Regions from separate parts of the Homo sapiens genome. Here region 2 is linked to region 1. The links come from fine-mapping of genetic effects on gene expression. Tissue or cell type: T cells. Region 1 holds a variant in brackets; the other region holds the start of a gene. All regions are shown on one strand. Distances are from middle to middle.

The links. PIP is the estimated chance that this variant, and not a neighbour inherited with it, causes the effect.
Region 2: SAMD10 starts here. The variant in region 1 is fine-mapped to the expression of SAMD10 in T cells (TOPMed, PIP above 0.99). The same link has a PIP of 0.9 or more in blood mononuclear cells and whole blood.

What each region holds. Positions count from the first base shown.
Region 1 is chr20:64,012,272-64,019,611 of GRCh38, reverse strand. It overlaps PRPF6 (pre-mRNA processing factor 6), which reads right to left. Exons shown (of 21, transcript NM_012469.4): 12 at 2,767-2,889. Among named protein-coding and RNA genes, the nearest start is that of C20orf204, 20 kb to the left of the region's middle. RefSeq lists enhancers at 1,714-2,913, 6,971-7,340. The variant G/A (reference allele first, on the strand shown) is at 4,363.
Region 2 is chr20:63,977,478-63,982,477 of GRCh38, reverse strand. SAMD10 (sterile alpha motif domain containing 10) reads left to right here and starts at 2,836. Exons shown (of 5, transcript NM_080621.5): 1 at 2,836-3,101. The coding sequence starts at 3,011. It overlaps PRPF6 (pre-mRNA processing factor 6), which reads right to left and starts at 1,346. Exons shown (of 21, transcript NM_012469.4): 1 at 1,162-1,346. The coding sequence starts at 1,232. RefSeq lists silencers at 1,052-1,161, 2,722-3,041 and enhancers at 2,232-2,291, 2,887-3,402, 3,388-3,682.

The sequences.
Region 1 (7,340 bases):
CGCCTCCTTGGACCTTCACAAGCAACCCGAGAGTGGCCTGAACACCCACAGGATCAAGTGATGCTGTGCCCAGGGCCCTGGTGTCCGGGAGGGAAGCAGCACCACAGCACACTTCTGGGCACAGAAAACACTGTCCTCCTTACTCTAGCATCACGAGCACTTTGAAAAACAGCTGTGCTTACTCCAGTGTATGTGAAAGAGATGACAAAATAATAAGAGAAAAACAGGCCAGGAGCAGTGGCTCTGGGAGGCTGAGGCAGGTGGATGGCCTGAAGTCAGGAGTTCGAGACCAGCCTGGCCAACATGGCGAAACCTCATCTCTATAAAAAATATAAAAATTAGCCAGGTGTGGTGGCAGGCACCTGTAGTCCCAGCTACTCAGGAGGCTGAGGCAGGAGAATTGCTTGAACCCTTGAACCTGGGAGGCGGAGGTTGCAGTGAGCCAAGATCGTGCCACTGGACTCCATCCAGCCTAGGAGACAGAGTGAGACTCTGTCCCAAAAAAAAAAAAAAAAAAAACCAACAACAAAAACTATTACCGCTGCCCTGCGTCTTAACTCACCTAAGGATTGATGTGTGTATTTTAGCATACATGGGGCAGGAGGATGGCCCAGCCGGCACACAAGCTCTGGGTCACGCCACACGGGGTGCAAAAGAATCATGTGTGTATCACACGGTCAATGCCAGCAGTGGGGTCTGATTCCAAGGACCAAAGGAGGAGCCATTGACCAATCCAGATGGAAGGAAGTGAACGCACACGGATGAAGGAGAAAGTGAAGCTCTTCGTTACTGTAGAATTCCAACTAATAAAATGTAAGAGAAACTGTTCACAAAATCATTATGCAGGTGTGACCAGGCACAGTGACACGCCTGTAATCCTACATACTTTGGGAGGCTGAGGTGGGATCACTTGAGGCCAGGAGTTCGAAACCAGCCTGGACAACATAGTGAGATACTGTTTCTACAAAAAAAATTTAATATATAAAAAAAGATTTAAAAAAAATCACCATTTAGCAAACACCACAGAAATAACTGATTCAGGCCAAGAAGCATCATTAATGGATCCTCAAAATACTTATTAATAATAACAAAGAAACAAACAGCAACCATACAGTGGAAACACCTGCGGCCACTGCCCGCACCAGACGGTCGGAGTTGAACAGGTGCACACCTCTCCGTATGATGCACCAAGAAGCCTCAACCCAACCCGGAGGAGACACCACAGAGAACCAGATGAAAGAGGAGTCTACAGCATCACTGGCCCGTGGTCCTCAAAAAATTCACACTCAGGAACAACAAAGGCTGAGGCTCTCTTCCAGACTAGCCTGAGGATGACCCTGTATTCCTCACAGAAGACAGTTGGTTTTTTCTTCTGCTAAAAGGACACAGAGACAACGGGTGAGACTTTTTCTTTTTTTGAGATAGGGTCTTGCTGTCACTCAGGCTGAAGTGCAGTGGCGCAATCACAGCTCACTACGGCCCCAAACTCCTGAGCTCAAGTGATCCTCCCACCTCAGCCTCCTGAGTAGCTGGGACTACAAGCGTGCACCACCATGCCTGGCTTTTGTTTCTGTAAAGATGGTGTTCTGCCATGTTGCCCAGGCTGGTTTCAAACTCCCGAGCTCAAGCGATCTGCCCATCTCGGCCTCCCAAAGTGCTGGAATTACAGGCGTCAGCCCCATGCCCAGCCTGTGGGTGAGATTTGAGTAAGGTCTGAAGTTACCTGACAGCACTGTCCCAACATCAATGTCCTGATTTTGATAACTGAGCTATGGCTGTGTAAGAGAACGTCCTCTTTTAAAGAAATACACACCAAAGTGTTTAAGGTAAAGGGCACCACATCTGCAACTCATTCATTGTCAAACAGTTCCAGAAAAAAAAATAAGAGGTAAGTGCATGAGAGCGAACAGAGTAAGAAAGCAAATCTGCGGCCAGGCGTGGCGCCTCACGCCTGTGATCCCAGCACTCTGGGAGGCCGGGCGCGGCGGCTCATGCCTGTGATCCCAGCACCGTGGGAGGCCGGGCGCGGCAGCTCACGCCTGTGATCCCAGCACCGTGGGAGGCCGGGCGCGGCGGCTCACGCCTGTGATCCCAGCACTCTGGGAGGCCGGGCGCGGCGGCTCACGCCTGTGATCCCAGCACTCTGGGAGGCCGGGCAGGGCGGCTCACGCCTGTGATCCCAGCACTCTGGGAGGCCGGGCGCGGCGGCTCACGCCTGTGATCCCAGCACTCTGGGAGGCCGGGCGCGGTGGCTCACGCCTGTGATCCCAGCACTCTGGGAGGCCGGGCGCGGTGGCTCACGCCTGTGATCCCAGCACTTTGGGAGGCCAGGCATGGCGGCTCACGCCTGTGATCCCAGCACTCTGGGAGGCCGGGCGCGGTGGCTCACGCCTGTGATCCCAGCACTTTGGGAAGCCAAGGCGGGGTGGATCACGAGGTCAGGAGATTAAGACCATCCTGGCTAACACGGTGAAACCCCGTCTCTACTAAAAATACAAAAAATTAGCTGGGCGTGGTGGCACATGCCTGTAGTCCCAGCTACTCGGGAGGCTGAGGCAGGAGAATGGCGTGAACCCAGGAGGTGGAGGTTGTAGTGAGCTGAGATAGCGCCACTGCACTCCAGCCTGGGCGACAGAGCAAGACCCCGTCTCAGATTTAAAAAAAAAAAAAAAGAGTTTTAAAATAGCCTAGTAGTTTATAAGGTGCCTGCTGTTCCCACAAGCAGAGACTCCATATTACGGACAAAGGCCCCTGTTGCCAACTCACACTGTCAGCATCCTCCATCCAGGTATGCTTCCGATCTTCCTCCTCAATCCCAATCCCAATCACGGCACGCATGACGGCCTGGCAGGTGGCCACACTCCCAGCCCTGTCACATTCCTCGGCATCCTGAAAGAGGAACACAAAACTTATTTGTGATTTTGGAAATCAGAGCTGCAGATTCCCAACGGGGAGTACGGAGTTCCTGAACGGTTAAAACTGACAGACATCAGCACAAGATGCTGACACTGCCTACTGGGGATCTGAGGAAGTGAGTCTACTGCACGCCAATCAGAAAAAACAATAGAGAAATGTCACAAAGGACATAGGCACACTGTTCACTAGAAAATAAAAATACAAACAACTTTCAAACATGTGAAAAGAAATGTAAAGCCTTTTTATTTTATTTTTTTAAGAGACAAGGTCTCAGCCAGGTGTGGGGGCTCACACCTGTAATCCCAGCACTTTGGGAGGTCGAGGGTGGATCACGTGGTCAGGAGTTCGAGACCAGCCTGGCCAACCTGGTGAAACCCTGTCTCTACTAAAAAATAAAATACAAAAATTAGCCAGGCGTGGTGGTGGGTGCCCGTAATCCCAGCTTACTCGGGAGGCCGAGGCAGGAGAATCACTTGAACCCGGGAGGCGGAGGTTGCAGTAAGCCAAGATCACGCCACTCCACTCCAGCCTGGGCAACGGAGCAAGACTACGTCTCAGAAAAAAAAAAAAAAGAGAGAGAGTCAAGGTCTCTCCCTGTCACTCAGGCTGAAGTGCTGTGGTACAATCATAGTTCACTGCAGCTTCCAACTCCCAGGCTCAAGGGATACTCTCACCTCAGCCTCCCGAGTAGCACAGACATGCACCACCATGCTCAATGGTACATTATGTTTCATAGATACAGGGTCTCCTTATGTTGCCTAGGCTGGTGTTAAACTCCTGGTCTCAAGTAACCCTCCTGCTTTAGCCTCCCAAAGTGCTGGGATTAGTGCATAAGCCACCACACCCAGCCCCTATTCTTATTTTCAAGATGCTAATTAAACTATTCTAAGTACCATTGTGCACGTATCAGATGAGCAACATTGAAACATGTGCTGACTGGCTCACTTGGTGAAGGGGGCATAAATCTTATACTGCAAAGAAGCACATATCTCTATGGAGGGCAATTTCTCATTCTCTATCAAAATAAAACAGGCACATATTTGACCCAGCAGTTCTACTTTAAGGCATTCATGTGACAAATATATTCCCATGTGTGCAAGAGAATGTGTCTACCAACAAGAGAACAATAACCCAGCCAGAGCAACAGGGTGCAGGAGCACAGGCACCACTGCGGCATGCCAACATGGGGGACCACGACATGGACCGTGAGCAAAGTGCAACCGGAGCCACATGCCTCCCAGACCCTCCCAGGGCCCTGCCAGCACCAGAAAACCATCCCAGACAGAAAGCAGAGCCAAGAGCAAGGATCTGAGGCAGAGACGCTGGCACAAAGGTCAGTGGTGAGAAGAATGCGTGGGGCAAGGACCCAGCACCCAGACCCTCAGGGGCCTGCGGCAAAGGTGCTGGCTCTTCCTCCATGGACAGTTTCTACTGAACGCAAACTGC[G/A]CTGGCTCTTCCTCCATGGACAGTTTCTACTGAATGCAAACTGCTTTTGAACCACGGCAAAAGTCAAACCATGGGAAGTCAGGGACCATCTGTAGTTGCAAATCATGTCTCTGATAAGTGACAATATATCCAGAATATATAAAAACATCTCTTACAACTCAATAATAAAACAACAGACAAAAATAATACATAGACCATAATAAAGACACAATCCAATGTAAAAGTAGGCAAAGGATTTCAATACCTCCATGCTACAACATGGAGGAACCCTGAAAACACACTAAGTTAAGGCCAGTCACAAAAGACCACGTGTCGTGTGATTCCACTCACGGTGTCGGACGATGCAAAAGCCACCACGCTCAGTAGAAGCAATACTTTGACTCAAACCACCAGTCTGTTTTTCACTTTCATCGTAGCATTCAATAAATTACGTGAGTTATTCAACACTTTACGTTCGATGACTCTGCCCAACTGTAGGCTAAGGTAGGTGTTCTGAGCATGTTTGACGTAGGCAGGCTAAGCTGTAAAGTTCAGTAGGTTAGGTGTATCACACGCATTTTATTTCATTTTATTTTATTTTATTTATTTTTTGAGACAGAGTCTCGCTCTTTTGCCCAGGCTGGAGTACAGTGTCACGATCTCGGCTCACTGCAACCTCTGCCTCCGCCAGGTTCAAGCAATTCTCCTGCCTCAGCCTCCCGAGTAGCTGGAATTATAGGTGCCCACCATCATGCCTGGCTAATTTTTTTGTATCTTTAGTAGAGACAGGGTTTTACCATGTTGGCCAGGCTGGTCTCAAACTCCTGACCTCAAGTGATCCACCCGCCTCAGCCCCGCAATGTGCTGAGATTATAGGTGTGAGCCACAGCACCCAGCCTCAAATCCATTTTAGACTTATGATATTTTCAACTTACAATGGGTTTATCAGGATATAAGCCCATAAGTTGAACATCTGTATATAAAATGTCCAGAAAAAAATGTGTAGAGAAAGAAAGTAAAAAAACAAGGTTAGACAGGCACGGTGGCTCACGCTTGTAATCCCAGCACTCTGGGAGGCCGAGGCAGGTGGATCATCTGAGCTCAGGAGTTTGAGACCAGCCTGAACAACATGGCAAAACCGCGTCTCTACAAAAAATAGAAAAAAATTAGCCAGGTGTGGTGGCGCATGCCTGTAGTCCCAGCTACTCAGGAGGCTGAGGCAGGAGAATTGCTTGAGCCCAGGAAGCAAATGTGGCAGAGAGCCAAGATTGATTGCACCATACACTCCAGCTTGGGAGACAGAGACCCACCCTGTCTCAAAAAAAAAACAAAAACAAAAACAAAAGGCTACAGAGGTATGAAAATGGGGAGCAACAACTCACGGACACAGGATTTCTTTCTGGGGTGATGAGAAGGTTCTAGGATTGTGGTGATAGCGCATAGCTCTGTGAATATACTAAAACCACTGAATCGTAAACTTTAAATGGGTGGATTCTGTAGAACGCTAGTTATAGCTTAATAACCTGTCATATGCTGGGTATGGCAGCTGATGCCTGTAATCTCAACACTTTGGGAGGCTGAAGTGGCAGGATTGCTTAAGGCCAGGAGTTTAAGACCAGCCTGGGCAGCATAACAAGACAAAAAATAAAAATAAAAAAAATTGGCCAAGCATGGTGGCACACGCCTGTAGTCCCAGCCACTTGGGAGGTTAAGGCGGGAGGATTGCTTGAGCCCAGGTCAAGGATGCAGTGAGCCATGACTGCACCACTGCACTCCGGCCTGAGCAACACGGCGAGACCCTGTCTCAAGAAAGAAAGAAGGAAAGAAAGAAAGAAGAAGAAAGGAAGGAAGGAAAGAAAGACAAACTGTCATAAAATATAACAGAAAATAGTAATTTCATTATTTATTTTTCTTGAGAGAAACATAACTCAGTGGGTGACTCCTTAAAAGAAGGCATTAGAGGGAACCCAAGCCCTACTTCCTAAGTTAGATCATCTTTGGAAACTTTTCTATAGCCTTAAGTCTACAGACAAAGATAAAAGACAGGGAAGACCAAGGCGGGCAGGTTGCTTGAGGTCAGGAGTTCGAGACCAACCTGGCCAACATGGTGAAACTCTGTCTCTTCTAAAAATACAAAAATTAGCTGGGTATGGTGGCGGGTGCCTGTAATCCCAGCTACTCAGGTGACTGACGTAGGAGAACTGCTTGAACCCAAGAGGTGGAGGTTGCAGTAAGCCAAGATCGTGCCACTGCACTCTAGCCCTCTAGCCTGGGTGACAGAAAGACTCCCTCTCAAAAAAAAAAAAAAAAAAAGGGTGTGGGGGAGAGGGGAAGAGTAAAAGAAGCCATGAGACTTCCTGTCCTCCTCTCGTAGGTGTATCATTTCTACTAGCAAAGAAAGAAGCCATGAGACTTCCTGTCCTCCTCTCGTAGGTGTATCATTTCTACTAGCAAAGAAAGAAGCCGTGAGACTTCCTGTCCTCCTCTCGTAGGTGTATCATTTCTACTAGCAAAGAAAGAAGCCGTGAGACTTCCTGTCCTCCTCTCGTAGGTGTATCATTTCTACTAGCAAAGAAAGAAGCCGTGAGACTTCCTGTCCTCCTCTCGTAGGTGTATCATTTCTACTAGCAAAGAAAGAAGCCGTGAGACTTCCTGTCCTCCTCTCGTAGGTGTATCATTTCTACTAGCAAAGAAAGCCGTGAGACTTCCTGTCCTCCTCTCGTAGGTGTATCATTTCTACTAGCAAAGAAAGAAGCCGTGAGACTTCCTGTCCTCCTCTCGTAGGTGTATCATTTCTACTAGCAAAGAAAGAAGCCGTGAGACTTCCTGTCCTCCTCTCGTAGGTGTATCATTTCTACTAGCAAAGAAAGAAGCCGTGAGACTTCCTGTCCTCCTCTCGTAGGTGTATCATTTCTACTAGCAAAGAAAGAAGCCGTGAGACTTCCTGTCCTCCTCTCGTAGGTGTATCATTTCTACTAGCAAAGAAAGAAGCCGTGAGA
Region 2 (5,000 bases), 36 kb after region 1:
AAATTCTGGGCCGGGCGTGGTGGCTCACGCCTGTAATCCCAGCACTTTGGGAGACGGAGGCGGGTGGATCATGAGGTCAGGAGTTCAAGACCCCCCTGGCCAACATGGTGAAACCCTGTCTCTACTAAAAATACAAAAATTAGCCGGGCGTGGTAGCGGGCACCTATAATCCCAGCTACTCAGGAGGCTGAGGCAGAGAACTGCTTGAACCCGGGGGGCAGAGATTGCAGGGAGCTGAGATCGCACCATTGCACTCCAGCTTGGGCGACAGAACAAGACTTTGTCTCAAAAAATAATAATAATAATAATAATTCTGAAGGGTCATGATCTTTCTAACGTCTCCAGGAGCTCTAGCCTGACGCTCAAGGCCCCTCCAACCTCCTGAGCTCTATTCTATTCGCTGTACATTCCACTCACACTGGACTCCCTCCTGTTCCCTGGGCTTCCTCCTTGCCTCACTTTTTTTGAACTCCCACACGCAGAATGTCAGTTTCTCTTCTATCGTCACCGTTTCTACAGCCCTAAGTCCAGCTCTCTTACTAAACTTGGCTCCAATGCTACTCTCCATTAAGCACTGGGTTCTAAATCTGGTCCTCTTTACGTACTTATTTATGGTAATAGCAAACCCTCCTTAGTGAGCTTGTGTGTGCCCCACAGATTCCAATATAATACCACCACCAAGAAAAACCCAGTAGTGTTCCTCATCAAATGAATAGCCAAATAGGATAATAACGACTGCTCACTTATCCAGCAACGCACGGTGGTCATCTGTGTTGCAGGCATAGAGGACCCAGGCACGCTTAAGGCGGGGCGGGCGGGCGGGCGGGGGGGGGGAGTGTCAGCCCGACCTGAGGAAGGTGGTCGCGTGTTTCCACTACACGTCAGATTCCTCTACTCCTCACTGCAGACCGTATACAGCATTACCCATCTTACAGACCAAAACACTGGGCTGAGAGTCAATGTGTCACATCTAGGCGGCAAGCAGGGTGCACACACAGGTATGTCCTGACCCCAAAGCCCGTTGCTTCCTGCAGGGATTAAGCCGATCCACCAAGCGTCTTTCAGACTGCGCGGCCATAGACCCCCGCCCCCAAACACGCCCCAAAGCACTGCGCTCCTGTAGCCGGGTCCCCGCCCCTCGCGCGCCGCCCCAGGCCTCACCCCCGGCCCAGCCCCGGCACGTAGCCGAGGGGCGCGGGCATCCCTAGGAACGGTTTCTTCTTCTTGTTCATGGTGGCGGCGACGACCAAGGCTAGGAAGGAAAGGAATGAGGCAGCGGAAGAGGGAAAGACGCAGAGACTCTAGGCTTCGACGTCCGATGCACTCCGTAGCAAAGTGTCGCCGTCGTCGCGTCACCCGCGCCCCGGAAGCAGAGCGCTCAGTCCGCACACGCCCCGCCCACTTTTGATTCCCTGGGCGGAAGTCCCGACGTCCTGGTTCGACGACTTCCGGCCGCGGCTAGGGGGCAGGAACGTGGTAGGCGCGTGCGCGGGAGCGCCTCCTCGTGGAGAGGCGGAAGAAGCTAGGTCGAGCTTGCACTGGGACCCTAACTGGCCCCTGGGGGCTAAAAACAGCCTGGGGCATTGCTGCTTCCCGAGTGCTCTGATGCAGTCCGGAGACCTGTCTGTGAGAGTGGGACCCATGGTCCCCTCCCTCTGAACCCATGGCCCCCTCCCTCTGAACCAGCCCAGCTGCCCGCCCTCGCCCCTGGTGCGCCCTGTCCGAGCAGAGCTGTACCCTGTCCAGTTGTGTAGAGCTTGTGTGTACTGGTTATGGGCACACCTGTCTGTGTGCGTCCTGTGCGCACACTGCTGCCCTACGCTTTTAGCACTCATATTCTTGAACCCCCATTCAGGCATCTGTCCCTCCAGTGGGACTAGAGACCCCACCCACGCCCGCCAACATGCCTTGGACATTCTGGTGAGGGCCACATCCTTAGCTCCTGGAGAGCTAATTGACGAAATAAATAACCGCAGCTGAGCTGTCGGGAACACGTCAGTACATGAACATGGCTGTCAAGCATGTGGGTGAATTCTGTGTGTGTGATTAGTGGGGTGTGTGCACAGAGGTCACGTGTGCTCGTGTTTTGGGTGCAAGTGCATGACTGTACTCTGTGCATGCATTTCTACATGTCTGTGTGCATCTCTGGTCCTCCTGCTGTAAGACATCCTCCAGAGCCCCTACATACACCCAGGGAGAGCACCCAGGCTCCTGGGCAGAGCAAGCCGAATAGCTGGTTGCAAGCCTGGCCTGCTGCTGCACCAGGCAACCACAGTTCCCTAGCCCAGCCCCATCTCAGCACTTCTCACTGGAGTCCTGGAGCAAACACACCGCTCCGGCCTGCTACAGCCTCCTTGGAGTTCCCCTCTGCCCCATCTCCAGGCAAGCCAAGCCCCTTTCAGTTACAGAGCACTGTACCGCCCCCTCTCCCCCGGGCACTGAGCCAGGTTCTGGGGCTGCAGAGGGAAGGGAGAACCACCCTGATGTTCACAGTGGGGTGGGCGGTAAGCAAGAGTCAAGCTGGTTTCTCCGGGGAAGCGGGTGCCTATTTGAAGGCGAGTAAAGACGTAGGAGACCGAGGAAAGTGTGTGGGAGGCGTTGACCTGCCCCTTGTCCTGGCCCCGGTAGGTAGAAGACCCCTGTGAGATGCCCCTCAGCCCACCCCCACGCACAGAGGGGCCCGACCTCAGAGGACGCCCGGCAGGTTCACGGGGACTCTCCTCCGCGGAGCCGTGCCCAGGGGCGCACGGACGCCCCTCGCCCTGGCGGACAGCCTTGGTGCACGCAGGCCCGCGCGCCGCCGACACACCTCGGAGCTCCCGGAGCGCGCCCGGCACACAGGGCTCGGCGGCAGGTGCCTCGTCGCGCACACTCGCGGGCCGCGGGGACCGGCTCGGGCGCGGGGCCGGCTGGGGCGGGGCGGGGCGGCGGCGCGCGTTCCCCGCCGGCCACACCGGCCGCCCTGCACTCGGCGAGGGGCGTGTGCGCGGGCCTGGCACCCGCGGGCCCCATGTTCACCGAGCTGAGGTCCAAGCTGAGCCCCCCGCGTGGCCGCGCCGGGGCCGTGCGCGCGGGCTTCGGGGAGCGCCGGGATGTGGACGGTGAGCGGGGCTGGATTGGGGAGCGGGGATTTCTCGGGCGGGGGTCTCAGGGACCCAGAGGCACGGGGGCGGGGCGGGACCCGGCGGGCTTCGAGCGGCGGTGGCTGGGGGTATTCGGCGGATGTCTCGGCTCAACGGGGTCCCGTAGCCTTTGTCCTGCTTTAGGGGGCAGCCAGCCTCAGGCCTTGGGGGTCAGCGCGCCCTTGGCTTGGGGTGAGGGGGTGTCAAGCCGGGGCGCCTGTGTCCAGGCTGGCACTACGCTCGGGTCACCTTTTCCTGCGCACGGGGAAAACCCTCCCCCGCTTTTGCAGTGGGGCCGAAAGGGGGCCGAGGTCACATCCCGCCTCGGTGCCCCCGCCCCATTTCCTTCTGGAATCCTGACGTTGGGGCGGGAGGGACCGGACCGACAGACCGCGGGACGGACGGAACTCCCTCCGGGAGTGCAGGCAGGAAATGGGCGGAGCCTGCTTGGCCGGGGCAGGTGCCGTGCGGGCTGAGGAGTCCGACGGGTTTCCCCGGACTGCCGCGCGCTTCTGCACCAGCCCCGCCGCTCGAGGCCCTGCAAAGCCCGGCGACCACGGCGCCTGTCCGCTGGAAGGCGCGGGCTTAGAATAAGCCTTTTCCCACAGCACTAGGGGCCACCTCGGGGCGGTGGCCCACTGAGCACACCCTCTGCTGACCCCAGACCTCAAATTTGGAGTCACCCAGGGGTCCGGTTCCTGAAAGTTGCAAGAATGGGGGCGGAAGGTGTTATGTCTCCTAAGTCTTACAGGCGTGGGAGGACGGGGAAGTAGGATGTGGTTTTCACCGATACTTAGACCTCCTAGACACATCCCCAACCCCTGCCCTGGGTGTGGAGTGGGTGGCTGAGTCTGAGGCCGGGAGGGTCTCTCACTCTAGGGTGGATGGGATGAGGGCCCTAGCGTGGGAACCTCACCTGCCCTGCTGAAGGCCTGGGTGCTAGGGTGCTGTAAAGACAGGGGCAGGCCTGTGCCCACCTTCTGTCTCCCCACAGGCTCTGTTCACTTGCAGATACCATACAGAGCCTTCATTCATTCATTCATTGACAATGAATGTGGGGTGCCCCTCTGTAACCAGACCTGGATCAAGACGCCTGCCTCCCCAGACTCAGGTCAGCAGTGCCCCCAGAGATGATGACAAAGCTCAGATGAAACACTTTAATGCAGTTACTGTGGGAAGAGGGAGCACAGAGCATCACCGTGGGTCCCCAAGCAATGGCTGCACCCCACATACCTGTGCTGACCCGCCCATATCCAATGGGTACCCACCATTCACATGGCCGGTGTTGTCCCGGGCTGCAGGCCCTGTGGGGGGCGGCACAGCTGGAGAGCCCAGCGCGTGTTTGCGGAGTGAGCCCTGCTTGTCAGTTGGCCCACAGTTCAGGCTGTCAATGAGTCATAGTCAGTGAGTCGGGCCCCAACACCAGATAGGGCTGTGTGAACTGGGTGCCTTCAGTGGCGATGGGCAAGCAGCATCCTCAGCCCGGTTTCCCCAGCACAGACGACCTCCCCGGACTCGGGATCTGCCTTTCCTCAAAGCAGGCCGTGTGTGCACTTCCTGGTCTGGTGTGGTGTGTGCAAGACTTGTGGGCCAGCCCAAGGCAAGGGTGAGGTCAGGGCTGTCCCAGGATAGCTCCTCTTGTCATATGTCTCAGGTTCCCTTCCCTAGAGGGCACATCCTCTGATCTAAGAATCCATCCTGCTCCCCTGGGTGAGGGCTGTAGACTTGCAAGATGAAAGGTGTTTCCAGTTCTTCTCTTTTTGTGCTGGGTGAGGTCCTCGAAACAGGTCCTGCACACTTCCTTCTGCCTTTGGAGGCTTGGGAACCCCTCATTGGGGAGGTGATTTCCCGCACTAGTGTGGAGGAGATGGGGCAGGG